5 linked regions of the Homo sapiens genome follow. The protein of the gene in region 1 purifies or fractionates together with the protein of each later gene. This does not show direct contact. Each region holds a gene or a part of one and is shown in the gene's direction. Other genes may lie near its edges. The genes, in order: CRYBG2, SATB2, KAT14, HELZ and YEATS2.

Region 1 (3,521 bases):
TCAGTATTATTATTGTTGTTATTGTTATCATGAAGATGAAAAGGAGAAATCTAGAATGAAGCCAAGTGCAGTGGCTTGTACCTATAATTCTAGCACTTTGGGCCGGGCGTGTTGGCTCACGCCTGTAGTTCCAGCACTTTGGGAAGCCAAGGCGGGCAGATCATGAGGTCAGGAGTTTGAGACTAGCCTGGCCAACATGATGAAACCCCGTCTCTACAAAAATTAGCCGGGCATGATGGCACATGCCTGTAATCCCAGCTACTTGGGAGGCTGAAGCAGGAGAATTGCTTGAACTTAAAAAGTGGAGGTTACAGTGAGCTGAGATTGCGCCACTGCACTCCAGCCTGGGTGACAGAGTGAGACTCCATCTCAAAAAAATAAAGTAAATAAATTATAGCACTTCAGCAGGCTAAGGCAGGAGGATCACTTGAGCCTAGGAGTTTGAGACCTGCCTGGGCAACATGGTGAGACCCTGTCTCTACAAAAAATTAGCTGGGCATGGTAGCATGTGCCTGTAGTCTCAGCTACTCAGGAGGCTGAGGTGGGAGGATTGCTTTAGCCCAGGAAGTTGAGGCTACAGTGAGCCGTGATTGCACCACTGCACTCCAGCCTGGGCAACAGAGCGAGACCCTATCTCAAAAAAAAAAAAAAAAAATCTAAGCTGCGCATGGTGGCTCACCCCTGTAATCCCAGCACTTTGGCAGGCCAAGGAGGCAGATCGCCTGAGGTCAGGAGTTTGAGACCAGCCAGACTAACATGGCGAAAGCCTGTCTCTACTAAAAGTACAAAAATTAGCCGGGGATGGTGGTGCGTGCCTGTAATCCCAGCTACTCAGGAGGCTGAGGCAGAAGAATTGTTTGAACCCGGGAGGCAGAGGTTGCAGTGAGCCAATATCGCGCCACTGTACTGCAGCCTGGGTGACAAGAGTGAGACTCTGTCTCAAAAAAAAAAAAAAAAAAAAGCCTAGAATAAGCCCCAGGTTTCCATCCTGGCTCAGAGTGCCAGGTTAGTTCTGAGAAGTGCTATTTACTGGAGAGGAGGTTTGAGGGGGAAACTGGGGACCCAGCCTAGCGCTTACTGCCTCTGAGAATCAGGAGCACTCGGCTGGCAGCGTCCAAGAATCAGTGGCCCTGCAGAACTGAGCTCAGGAGGGAAGAAGGCCTGACATACAGATCTGGGAGTCAGGGTGTCTGGGATTGTGGGGCTGCGTCTGGGACTTGGGCTCTCAGAGCCTCACCCTCTTCTGTCTCCTGGGCCCCAGCACTTTTCAGAGCCTTCCATTTTCCTGTATGGACTCGAGTGCTTCGAGGGGAAGGAGATCGAGCTCAGCAGGGAGGTGCGGAGCCTGCAAGCCGAGGGCTTCAACAACCATGTGCTGTCTGTGCGGATCAAGGGGGGCATGTGAGTGCTGAGGGGAGGCATGGGTGCGGTGGCTGCTGGTGGGGATGAGTCATGGCAAGACAGAGATCCTGGGGGTCTCTGGCCTCTTTCCCCTCCCCACTTTTCCCCCACTCCCCTCCAAGCCAGGAAGGAGGGAGAAGTGCGGACTGAGAAGGGTCACTGGCTCTCAGGGCTTAGACCCCAGCTTGGTGGGCTTCTCAGGATCCTTCTTTACCCTGAAAACCCCAAATCTACTTCCCAGCCTCCCTCTCCGCCCTGGGAACCCTATTCCAGGCAGAGGAATCCCTCCATGGGAGAAGAGGAGGTGGAGAACGTTTTGACGTCTGTGTCTCCTCCTCCACCTGTCTGTCTGTCTGTGTGTCTGTGCTCTTCTCTGTGTCCCTGACACCTGCTGGGCCCAGTTGGGTGCTATGTGAACACAGTGACTTCCGGGGCCGCCAGTGGCTGGTGGGAAGCTGCGAGATCACCAACTGGCTGACCTACAGCGGCACCCAGAGGGTGGGCTCCCTCTACCCCATCAAGCAGGTGGGTAGCGTGGCTGGAGCTGAGCGTGTCTGGGGCTGAGCGTGTCTGGGCAGGCCTTTCTGGATGAGTGTCTAGCTGTGTGTTTCCCAAACACAGCATTTGTGTACTTTTGTCACAACTTTTGCCACATCGTCATTCCTCTTGAGCCATTGTCTACTTAATATTTTTCTCTAGATTAACTCTCTTTTTAAAAGTCTTTTAATTAATTTTTATTTCTTAAAAAAAGCTTTTTTTTCTCTTTCTTTTTCTTTTTTTTTTTTGTGTGACAGAGTCTTGCTCTGCCACAAAGGCTGGAGCGCAGTGGCAACATCCTGGCTCACTGCAGCCTCCACCTCCCGGGTTTAAGTGCTTCTTGTGCCTCAGCCTCCCAAGTAACTGGGACCACAGGCACGTGCTACCACGCTCAGCTAATTTTTGTATTTTTAGTAGAGGCAGGGTTTCACCATGTTGGCCAGACTGGTCTCCAATTCCTGACCTCAAGTGATCCACCTGCCTCGGCCTCCCAAAGTGCTGGGATTACAGACGTGAGCCACCATGCCCAGCCCTTTTTTTTTTTTTTGAGATGGAGTTTTGGTCTTGTTGCCCAGGTTGGAGTGCAATGGCACGATCTCGGCTCACTGCAACCTCCGCTTCCCAGATTCAAGTGATTCTCCTACCTCATCCTCCGAAGTAGCTGGGATTACAAGTATGTGCCACCACATCTGGCTAATTTTTGGTTTTTTTTTTTGTTTTTTGTTTTTTGAGACGGAATCTCGCACTGTCACCTGGGCTGAAGTGCAATGGCGTGATCTCGGCTCACTGCAACCTCTGCCCCCTGGGTTCAAGCAATTCTCCTGCGTCAGACTCCCAAGTAGCTGGGATTACAGGTGCCTGCCACCACACCCGGCTAATTTTTTGTATTTTTAGTAGAGACGAGGTTTCACTGTAATTGGCCAGGTTGGTCTCGAACGCCTGACTTGTGATCTGCCCACTTCGGCCTCCCAGAGTGCTGGGATTACAGGCATGAGCCACTGCGCCTAGCTAATTTTTGTATTTTTAGTAGAGATGGGGTTTCATCATGTTGGCCAGGCTGGTCTTGAACTCCTGACCTCATGTGATCTGCCCACCTTGGCCTCCCAAAGTGTTGGGATTACAGGCATGAACCACTGTGCCCAGCCCCAGCCCAGTTTTTATTTAGCTTTCTGAGTCTGTGCTTGTGCCTTCAACACTTTCATAAGGATTTTTAGCTGCTGCATAAGGAAAGCAGGCTTGATCCTGCCACGAACACATTTAGCATACCTGGAACCACCATAGGCCCTCCTGACATGTTTTTTGTTTTGGACAATCTCATAAGAACTTTAGACCTCACAACATGAACCCCTTGAAGTCTGCCTGGGCACACGCCACATGCAGATTTTGGTGCTTTCCCAACTTTGTAGGTATAGAGGTCAACAATTCTATTACGAGGGGCTCAGGACAGCCTAGTTTTGTTAGAGGCTGTACCGTAGGAAAGCCTATGACAATATGTCAAATGCTGGAACATTCTCAGTGCCTCTAGACAATATCCCCAGAAGAGGAAAAAGAAAAAAATCACATTTTTTTTAACTTTATCCTTG
Region 2 (3,521 bases), on another chromosome or scaffold:
TACTTGCCTTATGCTTGTATATATATGATACTTACTTTTCCCTTTCAAAGTTATTCTTTTAATCTTTATTAAAGCACAATATAATGTAATAAAGCAGATAACCTGAGGAGAACTTCATTTAATGGCAAGTTGAGGTGATGTTATTAATTTTGTGATTTTTTTTCTTATCTGAGTGCATAGCACAATGTTTAAAATATCAATTTCTTAAAGAAACATTTCTATAAAAAAGATAGCAAGTGAGTCAATAAATGGATATACTATGTGGCAGACATTTTTAAATGAACATTTCCATAGCTGTATAATAATATTTATGTGAGCTTTTTACTAGAAGGTAGCACTTAATTTGGCAGGAGATGTTATCCTTGTCATTTCCTGATAACCATTAACTACATACTACAGAAGATAGGAACAGCTGGTGCTTTTATAACAAAGGTTGATTGGGGAGATGATAGAGCTTGGGGGATCTAAGAGGATTTAGAATGGTCAGTGGTTTCTGTCTTGGCTATTTAAAGAAATGCTTACTTTTAAGAATTTTAACTAATTGAAGTGGCAAATAATTTTACTTTCTTTCATATGTTCCATGAAAAAAATCTATTGTAACATTTAGCAGAAAAGAATATCACTTTTATGCTGGAGCTTCCATCGTTGTATGAAAAAATGTTTATATTATTAACATGCCAAAAGTATGATAATTCAGTTCTACATATATTAGCAATAAATTGTACCAATGAAAATAATGATTAATTATCACTTTTATCTCTTAACAGTGGAAAGAGTGGAACGAGAAAACCTTTCAGACTATTGTGTTCTGGGCCAGCGTCCAATGCATTTACCAAATATGAACCAGCTGGCATCCCTGGGGAAAACCAACGAACAGTCTCCTCACAGCCAAATTCACCACAGTACTCCAATCCGAAACCAAGTGCCCGCATTACAGCCCATCATGAGCCCTGGTCTTCTTTCTCCCCAGCTTAGTCCACAACTTGTAAGGCAACAAATAGCCATGGCCCATCTGATAAACCAACAGATTGCCGTTAGCCGGCTCCTGGCTCACCAGCATCCTCAAGCCATCAACCAGCAGTTCCTGAACCATCCACCCATCCCCAGAGCAGTTAAGCCAGAGCCAACCAACTCTTCCGTGGAAGTCTCTCCAGATATCTACCAGCAAGTCAGAGATGAGCTGAAGAGGGCCAGTGTGTCCCAAGCTGTCTTTGCAAGAGTGGCATTCAACCGCACACAGGTACAATTAGCATTAAACACTGTAATTAACAGTAATACTGGGGACAGAATTGAGATAGGTTATAATTATTTTTATCTCTTTAAAAAGCTTTATGGATCTCAGGACATAGAATTAGATTAATTAATAATCCTTAGTTAATGAAACGCTATTACCATTGATCCATGCATGACCATGATTAATTAACTAATTGATTAATTTTGATGAGGTAATGGACATCTTTGAACCCAACATGCAACTCAGGACCCCAAATGTTACTAATGACTTGGGTATGTACTCTCTCATCCTCTCCATTTACTGTTTGCAGATGTAACCCTGATCTTGAATTTTGTGATTATCAGTCTCTTGCCATTTTTTAAAACAAATTATAAAACTATGCATGCCCAGACAATCTATTTTTTTCCCTTGGTTTTGAACGTTATAAAAGAAATAAAATTATGTTTTATAATTTTATAAGTAAAGTTTTATTTAAAAATTTATAAAAATCCTTCAAAACATAAAAGTTAGATTTAAGATATTGATAAAATGATAATGGATAGTTTACTTTTATTTTTAATGTTTGAGAGAATTATATGCCAATTATAACACTAAATGTTGAAAATGTAAACAGTTAATTCACACGTCTTATTTTTATTGAGGGTGCTTATATGTAAGACATTCTTTTCTGCTAGTAGTTCTTAAACTGGAGTGTGCATCAGAATCACCTGGAGGGCTGTGAAACACAGACTGCTGGGCCTCATCCCATAGTTTCTGATTGAGTAAGTCTGAGGTTGGACTCAGAAATGGACATTTCTAACAAGATCCCAGGTGATTATGATGGTACTGATCCGGGGCCGCATGTTGAGAAAAACTTACCTAGCCCTTATATGAGTAAGAACAAAGCAGATGTGCATAATCTCGGGGAGCTAACGATCTAGTGGTGAAAACCAGGTAACCAGATAATTAGAGTAAAATGTGAAGTGTTATGAGTAATGTTGGAGAGTGTAAGCAATAGTTGTGGTGGAGGTTCATGGTGAGCTGGAGGTGAGGAATACTTCCAGGAGAATGAATATGGTAAGCCTTCAAGAAAACAGTAGATTAAAATTTCAGCACCCTCGTAAATGCAAGGCAGGAAGCTAAGCTCTATGTGGGTGCAAAGAGGAAAAAGATAATGGGCAAGCACATATGTAAACAACACTCTAGAGTATTAGGTTGTCAATGGGTTAGACCTTGAAGGATTAATAAAGTACAGCAGGCAAAGATGATGAAGAAGAAGATTATTATTTTAAGGTAAAGACATTCATAGGAAAGATGTTGAGTTAAAAAATGCAGGAATAATTTGAAGACATAAAACAACTGATTTCTGAGAAAAACCCTGTGAACGTACAGAATGTAGGAATGCTTTCATTTATCTGATACCTGTTCAGAGACACATGATAACACACGCTGTAGATGGACCTTACAAATGAAAGAAAGCATGCTGGATTGAAACCTCAATAATTTGGAAAATACAGGAATGTTTCCAAATTTAATGATTACTTCAGAAGTTAAGGGGCTGGGCACAGTGGCTCATGTCTGTAGTCCTAGCACTTTGGGAGGCCAAGGTGGGCGGATCACTTGAGGTCAGGAGTTCAAGACCAGCCTGGGCAAGATGGTAAAACACCATCTCTACTAAAACAGAACAAAACAAAAAAATTAGCTGGGCGTGGTGATGCGTGCCTGTAGTCTCAGCTACTCAGGAGGCTGAGGCAGAAGAATCCCTTGAACCCAGGAGGCGGAGGCTGCAGTGAGCCGAGATCATGCCACTGCACTCCAGCCTGAGTGAGAGTGAAACTCCATCTCAAAAAAAAAAAAAAAAAAAAAAAAGTTAAGTGAAAACTCTCACTGGGGAGAAATCTGATAAATGTTGGTAAATTGGATTGCCTGATGCAAGTTAACACTCAAAAAATGCACCTAAGTGAAATGTTATACCAGTTATAAATATTTTATGTTTATCAGTGGTTCATTGTTAAAGAGGGTCTGTTTACTTTTGGTTTCCACGTCTCTTGCAAGAAAACATTGAGGTAAGAATTTTGTAGATACTCTTTAAGCAATACTGCGTGAGTTAAATAAATAGCGTTTTTGTTAAGTCAGTTAATACATTTTTTCTCTCTTTATTCGAAAGTGTGTTGGATCTCTGGTTGAATTGAAATGTATTTCTATTATGTAGGCGATTTAAATTTTTATTAGTTTTGAAATTGTCGTATGATTAATGAGTCATTGAAAAATGAGTTTTTGTGCTGGGTGCGGTGGCTCACGCCTATAA
Region 3 (2,857 bases), on another chromosome or scaffold:
TCTGATGCTGTATCTGTTTCCTCACTGTTCATGAAGGCACCTAGCACAGTCCCTGGTGGGTACAGAGGGCTTTGGCCTGATGAATGTTCAGAGTGAATTTTAGATTTCATACATAAAAGTATAGCTGTAATCAAGCCAGCTTCGTGTAAAACAGTGCAGGTTACTTTAAAGTTTCAAGCAGATCAAAGAGTTTATATGAGTCAAAAAGCTAGGAATAATACCAGGTATTTTTCTTGACTTGAATTTGTTTATCTTCTGTGGTACCGGAGGCGTGATTATGAAACAAAGCCACCCAAACTGCAGCTCCTGTCACAGATTCGTTCCCACCTGCACAGGAGCGACCCTCACTGGACGCCGGAGCCCGACGCACCTCTCGATTACTGTTATGTGCGGCCAAATCACATCCCAACGATCAACTCCATGTGTCAGGAGTTTTTTTGGCCTGGTATGTTCCCCCTCCCAAACCAGGCAGGTCATTTTTCTGTACAGTCCATTCTAGCAATTTTTAAAATTAGTTTATGTGATATCCTTAAGATTTTTATTTATGATTTCGTTTAGTTTGTCTCTGCTAACATGGAAATATTAAAATACAAATACCTCTTGCTTTCCCAAAATCTAGAAGAAGCCAGCAATAAACAGTGTTTTTGTTTGTTTCTCTTCCCTGTTTGTCTCTGTTTCCAGAGTAAAAGATTCATCCTGTTTTGCTTCTGCATATGTTTAGATACCAGGTAATGTCTATCAAAGATACACAGACTGGTAGCTTGGGCGTGTTTGGACACTTTTGTTTTTGGCTTAATAATTCTTTATGTTTTGTTTATTTAGCTGTTCCTTAGAGAGTATTAGTACAGCCAGAAGGTGTTTTTTAAAAGCCAAATGCCCTGATCACAGACTGAGAATAAGGGTAAACCCAATATAATTTGTCATTTTATCAGCCTTAACAAAATTGCCTCTGAAGACCAAAGTCATTAATTAAAGGAACACATTTGCATTGCTAAATATAAACTATTCTTTGTGGATCTGCTTTCCCACGCTGCCTTGAAACCTAAAGGAAATAATACATGTCTTTCAGATGTTAGATACGATTTCATCAAGATAGAGCTGTGTCGTCTTTATTGTCACATAATCACATAACTGTGAATGTGGTGGCAGAGCTGCACTCATTCTTTTGGGAGTCATACTGAGCCAAAAGTAACATTCTGGGAGCATCTCCTGCTTCCTGCCCTTATGTTAGGTGCCTTCCATACATTATGCACAGAAGCATATTTTACTTATTTATTGTGAAAGGTAGCATTTGTACAAAAGAACTTATAAATTATATGTGTGGGGGGTAAAGGATGTGATAGAACACGCTCGGAGGATCTTTACTTAACCCTGTCAGGTCTAGGTATGCTCTTCATCTTACATATTGCAGAAACGGAGTCTCTGAGACATTTTGAAATGTGCCAAGCCACACATGGTAGAGGAGGCTGAGTTCAAAGCCAGCTGTGTCCAATTCTGAACCCGTGCACTGCTACCTACCCTATTCTGCCACTCTTCTTTTAGGAAATACTATGTAATTTCAATATTTTCTAAAATTCACTCTTATTTTTATGATCTGGTTGTGTGGTCTCTATGTTACCTCCAGTTTTGGTGTTTTTTTTTTTTTTTTTTAGCATGCAGGTGTAGCTATATGTACATGCTGAACAGCTTGGTGTTCCTTAATTCTCAAAGGCATGTGGTTTGAGTCTCCGATGGTTTCTTTTCTTTAGGCATTGACCTGTCTGAGTGTCTGCAGTACCCAGACTTCAGTGTTGTTGTTCTTTATAAAAAAGTCATCATTGCCTTTGGCTTCATGGTTCCTGATGTGAAATACAATGAAGCTTACATTTCATTTCTGTTCGTCCACCCTGAATGGAGAAGAGCAGGGATTGCAACTTTCATGATCTATCATCTGATTCAGGTAAGTTGTCTATGTTTATGATTTATCACCTGTGTCTGGGCTCCCCTGAACAACCTGGAGGAGGAATGAAGCTGAGCTAGCCCTTCCCAGCATGGCCCAATGGAATGGTTTCCTTGTAAACCAAGTGAAGAAAGCCAGTCATCAGCATTCATGAGGTTATCAAAGCACACAGTCAAAAATCTTCGACCCTCTAAAATAAGATTATTATTCAGACTCAGGTTTCATAGAAACCAGTTTGTGAACATGTGTATAAATAAAATGAGAAAATACCAAAAGCAAGAGCTTTAGGGTGGACTATTCATATTAGTAGTAGCTACTGCTCTTAGGATCATCACCTTCGCAACTCAGAGAAGTGAGGGTAGGACTATTATTTTTATTTTTTTAAATATTTGTAAACATTTTAGCACAACTGTATCAATAAGAATATGTATATATTTTTTGAGACAGGGTCTCATTCTGTCACCCAGACTGGAGTTGCACAATCATAGCTCACTGCAGCCTCAACCTCCTGGGCTCGAGTGATTTTCCCGCCTCAGCCTTCTGGGTAGCCAGGACCACAGGTGCACACTGCCATGCCCGGCTGATTTTTTGTAGGGACAGGGTCTCACTGTGTTGCCTGGTCTGTGCTTGAACTCCTTGGTTCAAGCAATCCTTCCACCTCAGCCTCCCGAGTGCTGGGATTATGGGCATGAGCCACTGTGCCTAGCTACATATTTTATTTTTGCTGATAGTTTGTAATTTTACTATCACTGTATAAGGCTGATATGAACCTTCTAAGATTTGATTCTAGTATTGAATTATAATTCATCCTTTAATATATTTGTATCACCTTTGAAGAAAATACACCATATATCACCATCAAAAAACATGCAAGGATTTTTTTCCCCTAGAATTTTTTTTAGTCAACTTTTACTTAGA
Region 4 (3,521 bases), on another chromosome or scaffold:
CAGATTATAATGAACAGTAGTTTTACAACTGATCAGTAATGTAATTTTCAGTTAAGTGATGTTTTAGCTATTTATAATAAAATTCACATAAAAGTCACCATTTTAGCCATTTTAAATTGTACAATTTGGTGGATTTTAGTGTATTCACAATGTTATACAGTCATCACTACTGTCTAATTCCAGAACATTTCATCACCCATAAAAGAAACCCCATAACTGTTAAGCAATTACACCCCAATTTCCCCACTCTCAGATTAGTAACCACTAATCTACTTTCTGTGTCTATGGAGACATTTCATAAAAATTGAGTCATACATTATGTGGCCTTTTATATCTGGCTTTTGAAGTGCATCCACACTGTAACTTAGGAGTGGAGTTCTTGGGTGATGTAGTAAGTCTATGTTTAACTTTTTGAGGAACTGCAAACTGTGTTCTCTGCACATTTATATTCCCACAGCTATGTATGAGGATTCCAATTTCTCTATATACTCGCTTTGTAAAAAAAATTATAACCATCCTAATGGGTGTGTAGTAGGATCTCATTGTAGTGTTGTTTGTTTGTTTTTTGACACGGAGTCGCACTCAGTCGCCCAGGCTGGAGCGCAGTGGCATGATCTTGGCTCACTGCAACCTCTGCCTTCTAGGTTCAAGCAATTCTCTTGCCTCAGGCTCCTGAGTAGCTGGGACTACAGGCGCCCACCACCACACCCAGCTAATTTTGTTGTTGTTGTTGTTGTATTTTTAGTAGAGACGGGGTTTCACGATATTGGCCAGGCTGGTCTCAAACTCCTGACCTCAGGTGATCCGCCCCCAGCCTCCCAAAGTGCTGGGATTACAGGCGTAAGCCACCGCGCCCAGCCCTCACTGTAGTTTTGATTTGCATTTCCCTATTTACTGATGATGTTGACATCTTTGCATGTGCTTCTTGGTCATTTGTATCTTTTTTGGAGAAATGTCTATTCATATGCTTCAGCCATTTAAAAAAATGGTTATTTTTTTGTTACTTAGTTATAAGAGGTTTTTTTTAATGTATTCTGGTACAGACTCTTAATCTCATATATGATTTGCAATTATTTCTCTCACTGTGTGGGTTGTCTTTTCACTTTCTTGATAGTGTCCTTTGATGCTAAACTACAATTTATCTATTTTTTTCTTTGGCTGCTTATGCTTTTGGTGTCATATCCAAGAAACCCTGGCCTAATCCAAGATGGCAAAGATGTACTTTTACATTTCCTTTTTATAGTTGTTTGTTTTTTTTTTTGAAATGGCGTCTCGCTCTGTTGCACAGGCTGGAGTGCAGTGGCGCCATCTCGGCTCACTGCAAGCTCCGCCTCCCGGGTTCACGCCATTCTGCTGCCTCACCCTCCGGAATAGCTGGAACTACAGGTGTCCACCACCACACCCGGCTAATTTTTTTTGTATTTTTTTTAGTAGATACGGGGTTTCACCATGTTAGCCAGGATAGTCTCAATCTCCTGACCTCGTGATCTGCTCGCCTCGGCCTCCCAAAGTGCTGGGATTACAGGCTTGAGCCACCGCACCCGGCCCCTTTTTATAGTTTTATAGTTTTACCTCTTACACTTGGTTCTTAGTTCTTTGGTCCATTTTGAGTTAATTTTTGTATATTGTGTGAGGTGGGTATCAAATTCATTCTTTTGCATGTGGCCATACAGTTTTCTCAGCACCGCTTTTGAAAAGACTCCTTTCCCCCATTGAATAGTCTTGGCAACATTGTCAAAAATCAGTTGACTGTAGATGCTGGGTTTATTTGTGGATTCTCCATTGTATTTCATTTATCTGTGTGTCTGTCTTTCTGCCAGTACCACACTGTATTGTACACTGTAGTATTGTAGTAAGTTTTGGAATTGGAAGTATGAGTCCTTATATTTTGTTCTTTTGGAAGATTGTTTTGGCTATTCTGGGTTCCTTGAATTTTCTCATGTGAGGTTTAGGATCAGCTTACTAATTTCTTCAGAAAAAAAGCCAGCTGACATTTAAAAAAAGAATTGCTTTAAATCTCTAGATTAATTTGGGGAGTATTGCAACCTTAACAATATTAAGTCTTCGAGTACCTGAACATGGACATCTTTCTATTTGTTCAGGACGCTTAACATTTCTTTCAACAGTATTTTGTAATTTTCCAAGTATAAGTCTTGCACTTCTTTTGTTAAATTTATTCCTAAGCATTTTATTCTTTCTCATGCTATCATAAATGGAATTGTTTTCTTAATTTCATTTTTTGATTGTTCATTGCTAGTGTTTAACCACATGATGATATATTGATTGTGTATCTGCAATCTTGCTGAACTCTATTAACAGATTTTTTTGTAGATATCTTAGGCTTTTTTATATGGAAGATAATGTCATCTACAAATAAAAATAGTTTCATTCTTCCTTTCCAATCTGAATGCCTTTTATTTCTTTTTCTTGCTTAATTCTTGATTGTTTTTCTGGTTGCCACAAGCTTTTAATTAGGTTTCTAGGTTCCCAAAAAATGGATTATGACAGCTTTTGCCAATTTTTTTCTGTTTTTATGGAGGGATGGACTTTGGAGTTTCTCACTCTGCCATTTTTGCTGATATCACTTATGATGTTTTTATTTAACCTGCCAAATGAGTTCATGATATGAGGGGGAACTGTGTGCCAAAGTTTTTATAGGTTTTATGAAGTTTTGTACTTTACTAAATAATACTTCATATTGAATAATCTACTTTAGTCATTGATCTTTTTAAATGGGCCTTAATTTTGGAATTTAAGCTTTTTGTACCTTGGTGCTCTTAATGTCTGATATTTCTGTTATCTTTGTTTGTGTGTGAATAAGTACCTTTCATTGTCAGTGGGTTCTTAGAGTGAAATTTACTTTTGCAAAAACATTTGGTCAGTTTTATTTTGTTGCATGAGATTCACAAATGAGTGATTTACTGACAACACTGAAAAATTTATTTGACAAAGATAATATTTTTTTAGCACATTGCAGATTTTCACATTTTCAGTGTATTAGGGTAACTTTAGTCTGTTCAAAATGCTTTTGCATGAATCATCTCACAAAGTGAATGATTGATGTGCTTGCTGTTTATTTCCAACCTTTTAAAATAATTTCTTTAACGTTAACAACAAAGAAAAGGCTTTTCCCTCCCACTATGGATCCTTTTATTCCCAGAAAACTTAGTAGATTAATCTTGTGGGATGATATCTGGATGTTAGTGTAACAGTTCATTTAAATGGAAATGGTTGGTTACATTATGTTTCACTTGTTTTTTCTTTTTATAGTAATTTTGATTTTCTTGTGACAAATGAAATACATGGCCAGCACAGAAAATGTAGAAGTTAGAGAAATTATTTATAATTTAACTAGACAAAGATACCTACTATAACATTTAGCCTTTCCTAGCATTTATAGATGTGAATGTATGATCCATTAATGGAGGGAGATTATTTGTTGGGAAAACTTGAAACAATTTCTCTCTGCCCTTCCCCCAATTGCTATGCCCACCTATATCACCACTGAATGGGATCTTGGT
Region 5 (3,521 bases), on another chromosome or scaffold:
ATAAAACTTTCCAGTTATGATGCATTATGCTTTTAATACCCTGCTGGATTGGATTTGTATGTGTATTTGCAGTGAAAGCTTGTTTGCCATTTTCCTCTGATGGTGACTTTTGACCACATTTCCATAGGTTTGGAGATACTGTGTTCTCGTTAGTTTTTAAATAGTCTGTTACTTTAGTTTTAATTTCTTCTTTGAGTCATGAGTTATTAGAAGAGTGTCTTATTTTCCATATCATGGTGAGCTAATATTAATTTTTATTAAGATCAGAATGTGGCTGTAATATTTCTACATTTTGCAGTAATTTGAGACTTTCTTCATATCTTACTGTATGATTTACATTTTATGAACTTTTTTTTTTTTGAGACAGAGTCTCACTCTGTTGCCCAGGCTGGAGTGCAGTGGCGTGATTTCGGCTCACTGCAACCTCCACTTCCTGGGTTCAGCAGTTCTCCTGCCTCAGCCTCCCAAGTAGCTGGGATTACAGGTATCCACAACTATGCCCAGCTAATTTTTGTATTTTTAGTAGAGACGGGGTTTTACCACATTGGCCAGGCTAGTTTCAAACTCCTGTCCTCAAGTGATCCACCCACCTTGGACTCCCAAAATGCTGGGATTACAGGCATGAGCCACTGCATCCGACCTTAATGAACTTTTATAGATATTTTTAAAAGATTTTTTTCTGTTGGGTTCAGAGTTGTGTGTATTTGTTAATTCTGGCTTGTTAATTACCAGATATATATCTATATCATCTTTTTTGTTTGTTGTGTTTGTTTTGTTTGAGACGGGGTCTGGCTCTGTCACCCAGGCTGGAGGTGCAACGGCGCGATCTCAGCTTAACTGCAGGCTCCATCTCCTGGGCTCAAGCAATCCTCCTACCTCAGCTGCCCAAGTAGCTGGGAGTACAGGTGCTTGCCACTACTCCTAACTAATTTTTGTATTGTTTGTAGAGACAGGGTTTCACTGTGTTGCCCAGGGTGGTCTTGAACTCCTGAGCTCAAGCGAGTCACCTGCCTCAACTTCCCAAACTGCTGGGATTACAAGCGTGAGCCACCACGCCCGGCCTATCATCTGTATTTTTATAAATTGTCTTAATCTTTTAAATTTTATATAGAGATGTGTGATTTCTTAAACTTTCCTTTTTCTGTTTGTTGTATGTATTTTGATACTATATTGTTGGATGTATAGTTTAAGATGTATTTTTGTGATTGTGCCTTTAATAACATCATCTTTATCATGTTATTTTTTTTGCCTTGAATTCTATTATTAATATTGCCTTGCTTACTGTCTTTTTGTTTGCATGTGTCTGTGTATAATAACTTTGTACATTCTTTTAAACATTTAGCTAAAGAGCCTTTAAAGATGTAGCAATATCAACAAATAGATTAATGATGAAAACTAATGTAAGGTAGTAGTTATGTTCCCTGTGGTCATTTATATTTTGGCAGATATTTTAGTTAATCCTTCATTTATGGCTGGGCGCAGTGGCTCACGCCTCTAATCCCAGCACTTTGGGAGGCCGGGGCAGGCAGATCACGAGTTGAGGAGATCGAGACCATCCTGGCTAACATGGTGGAACTCCATCTTTAGTAAAAATGCAAAAAAATTAGCCAGGCATGGTGGCGGGCGCCTGTAGTCCCAGCTACTCGGGAGGCTGAGGCAGGAGAATGGCCTGACCCGGGAGGCGGAGCTTGTAGTGAGCCAAGATCGCACCACTGCACTCCATCCTGGGTGACAGAGCAAGACTGTTTCAAAAAAAAAAAAAAAATCCTTCATTTATTTTTCCAGATAGTAATATTGAGCACTTCCAGGAACTTTGGAGGGAGAAGGTAGGGAGAGCTGTGTTGGATGGGGCACGGTCAAGGAAGGCCCCTGATAAGGGGGAGATTTCAGCTGGAATCTGATTAAGCTAACCTAAGAAAAGAGCATTCCAGATAGAAGGAGCCATGATTCCAAAAGCTCAAAGGAAAATTGGGAGTATATTTGAGGGATAGAAAACCAACCTGTCTGGATCTTAAAGATTAAGGATGGAGAGGGAGACAGGGCGCAGTTCACATCTCTTAGGTCATGTTAAGGAATGGAAATTTGTTCTAAATGTTATGAAAAGCTATTTGAAGGATTCAAGCAGGGGATGACATGATCAGAAAAATATTCTTATTGTCCTTTTCTAAAGTGAGGTATAGTTTACAGACAGTGAAATACAGATTTTGCGTGTACAGTTGGGTGTTTTTGCAATTGGATATACATACCCATCTAACCTACACTCTTATTAAGATTAGTGGAGCACTGTGGGAGGCCAAGACGGGCAGATCACCTGAGATCGGGAGTTCGAGACCAGCATGACCAACATGGAGAAACCCCGTCTCTACTAAAAATACAAAATTAGCCCGGCGCGGTGGCGCATACTTGTAATCCCAGCTACCCAGGAGGCTGAGGCAGGAGAATCGCTTGAACCCGGGAGGCGGAGGTTGCCGCGAGCTGAGATTGTGCCATTGCACTCCAGCCTGGACAACAAGAGCGAAACTCTGTCTCAAAAAAAAAAAAGTTAGGTGGAGCATTGGTAATCCAAAAATCTGAATCTTAAATGCTCCAAAATCTGAAACTTCTTAAGCACCAACATGATGCCACAGTGGAAAATTTCACACCTGACCTTGTGACTGGTCAGTTAAAACATAGTCAAAACTTTGTGTTATGTTTTGAATTATTTAAAATGTTGTATAAAATTACCTTCAGGCTCTGTGTGTAAGATATTTATGAAGCGTAAATGAATTTCATGTTTAGATTTGGGTTCCTTCCCAAAGATATCTTACTATGTATATGCAAATATTCCAAAATCCAAAACAGTATGAAATCTGAAACAGTTCTGGTCCCAGGCATCTTGGGTAAGGAATACTCAACCTGAATAAAATATTTCTAAGAAAAAAGTCTTCATTCCTCTTCCCAGTCAGTCCCTAACACCAGCACCTCCAACTATGATTCTCATTTCTTTCACTATAGATTAATTTGTCTCTTCTAGAACTTAAGTGGGATAATTTAGCTTGTACTCTTGTGTTTGCCTTCTTTGGCTTGCCATAATGATTTTGAGGTTCATTTCTGTTGTTGCCTGCATCAAGAGTTCATTGAGTATACCACGATTTGTTCGTCCATTCCTCTGGTTTGGACTTTTGAGACATTTTTGAAATGTCATTGGCTAATGGAAAATGGATTGTAGAGTCTTATTCAGATATTTAATAAAGGAACACTGGTTGTCTTGTTTACAAAAGAGAATGTATTTTCTTTTAAGACTGTAGAAAGGACAGGGCCAGGAACTATGAAATCATTATCAGCATCTTAGGAATGCCTGTCTGTATGGAAGCAGATAGAAAATGATTGTACTACTCCCCTTCCCCACCTATTTTTTTTTTTTTTTTTTTTTTTGAGACGAAGTCTCACTCTGTCACCCAGGCTGGAGTGCAGTGGCGCAATCTCGGATCACTGCAACCTCTGCCTCCCGGGTTCAAGCAATTCTCCTGCCCTGAGTAGCT

The links.
Region 2: the proteins of CRYBG2 (region 1) and SATB2 purify together in Homo sapiens (affinity purification with mass spectrometry; one large-scale study listed by BioGRID and IntAct). This does not show direct contact.
Region 3: the proteins of CRYBG2 (region 1) and KAT14 purify together in Homo sapiens (affinity purification with mass spectrometry; one large-scale study listed by BioGRID and IntAct). This does not show direct contact.
Region 4: the proteins of CRYBG2 (region 1) and HELZ purify together in Homo sapiens (affinity purification with mass spectrometry; one large-scale study listed by BioGRID and IntAct). This does not show direct contact.
Region 5: the proteins of CRYBG2 (region 1) and YEATS2 purify together in Homo sapiens (affinity purification with mass spectrometry; one large-scale study listed by BioGRID and IntAct). This does not show direct contact.

Annotation. Positions count from the first base shown.
Region 1 is NC_000001.11:26,326,614-26,330,134, reverse strand, and holds part of CRYBG2 (beta/gamma crystallin domain-containing protein 2), read left to right. Parts: intron 1-1,261; coding exon 1,262-1,401; intron 1,402-1,802; coding exon 1,803-1,926; intron 1,927-3,521.
Region 2 is NC_000002.12:199,346,420-199,349,940, reverse strand, and holds part of SATB2 (DNA-binding protein SATB2), read left to right. Parts: intron 1-767; coding exon 768-1,240; intron 1,241-3,521. UniProt on the Homo sapiens protein: Binds to DNA, at nuclear matrix- or scaffold-associated regions. Thought to recognize the sugar-phosphate structure of double-stranded DNA.
Region 3 is NC_000020.11:18,182,854-18,185,710, forward strand, and holds part of KAT14 (cysteine-rich protein 2-binding protein), read left to right. Parts: intron 1-269; coding exon 270-445; intron 446-1,748; coding exon 1,749-1,939; intron 1,940-2,857. UniProt on the Homo sapiens protein: Component of the ATAC complex, a complex with histone acetyltransferase activity on histones H3 and H4. May function as a scaffold for the ATAC complex to promote ATAC complex stability. Has also weak histone acetyltransferase activity toward histone H4.
Region 4 is NC_000017.11:67,102,179-67,105,699, reverse strand, and holds part of HELZ (probable helicase with zinc finger domain), read left to right. Parts: intron 1-3,521. UniProt on the Homo sapiens protein: May act as a helicase that plays a role in RNA metabolism in multiple tissues and organs within the developing embryo.
Region 5 is NC_000003.12:183,704,288-183,707,808, forward strand, and holds part of YEATS2 (YEATS domain-containing protein 2), read left to right. Parts: intron 1-3,521. UniProt on the Homo sapiens protein: Chromatin reader component of the ATAC complex, a complex with histone acetyltransferase activity on histones H3 and H4. YEATS2 specifically recognizes and binds histone H3 crotonylated at 'Lys-27' (H3K27cr).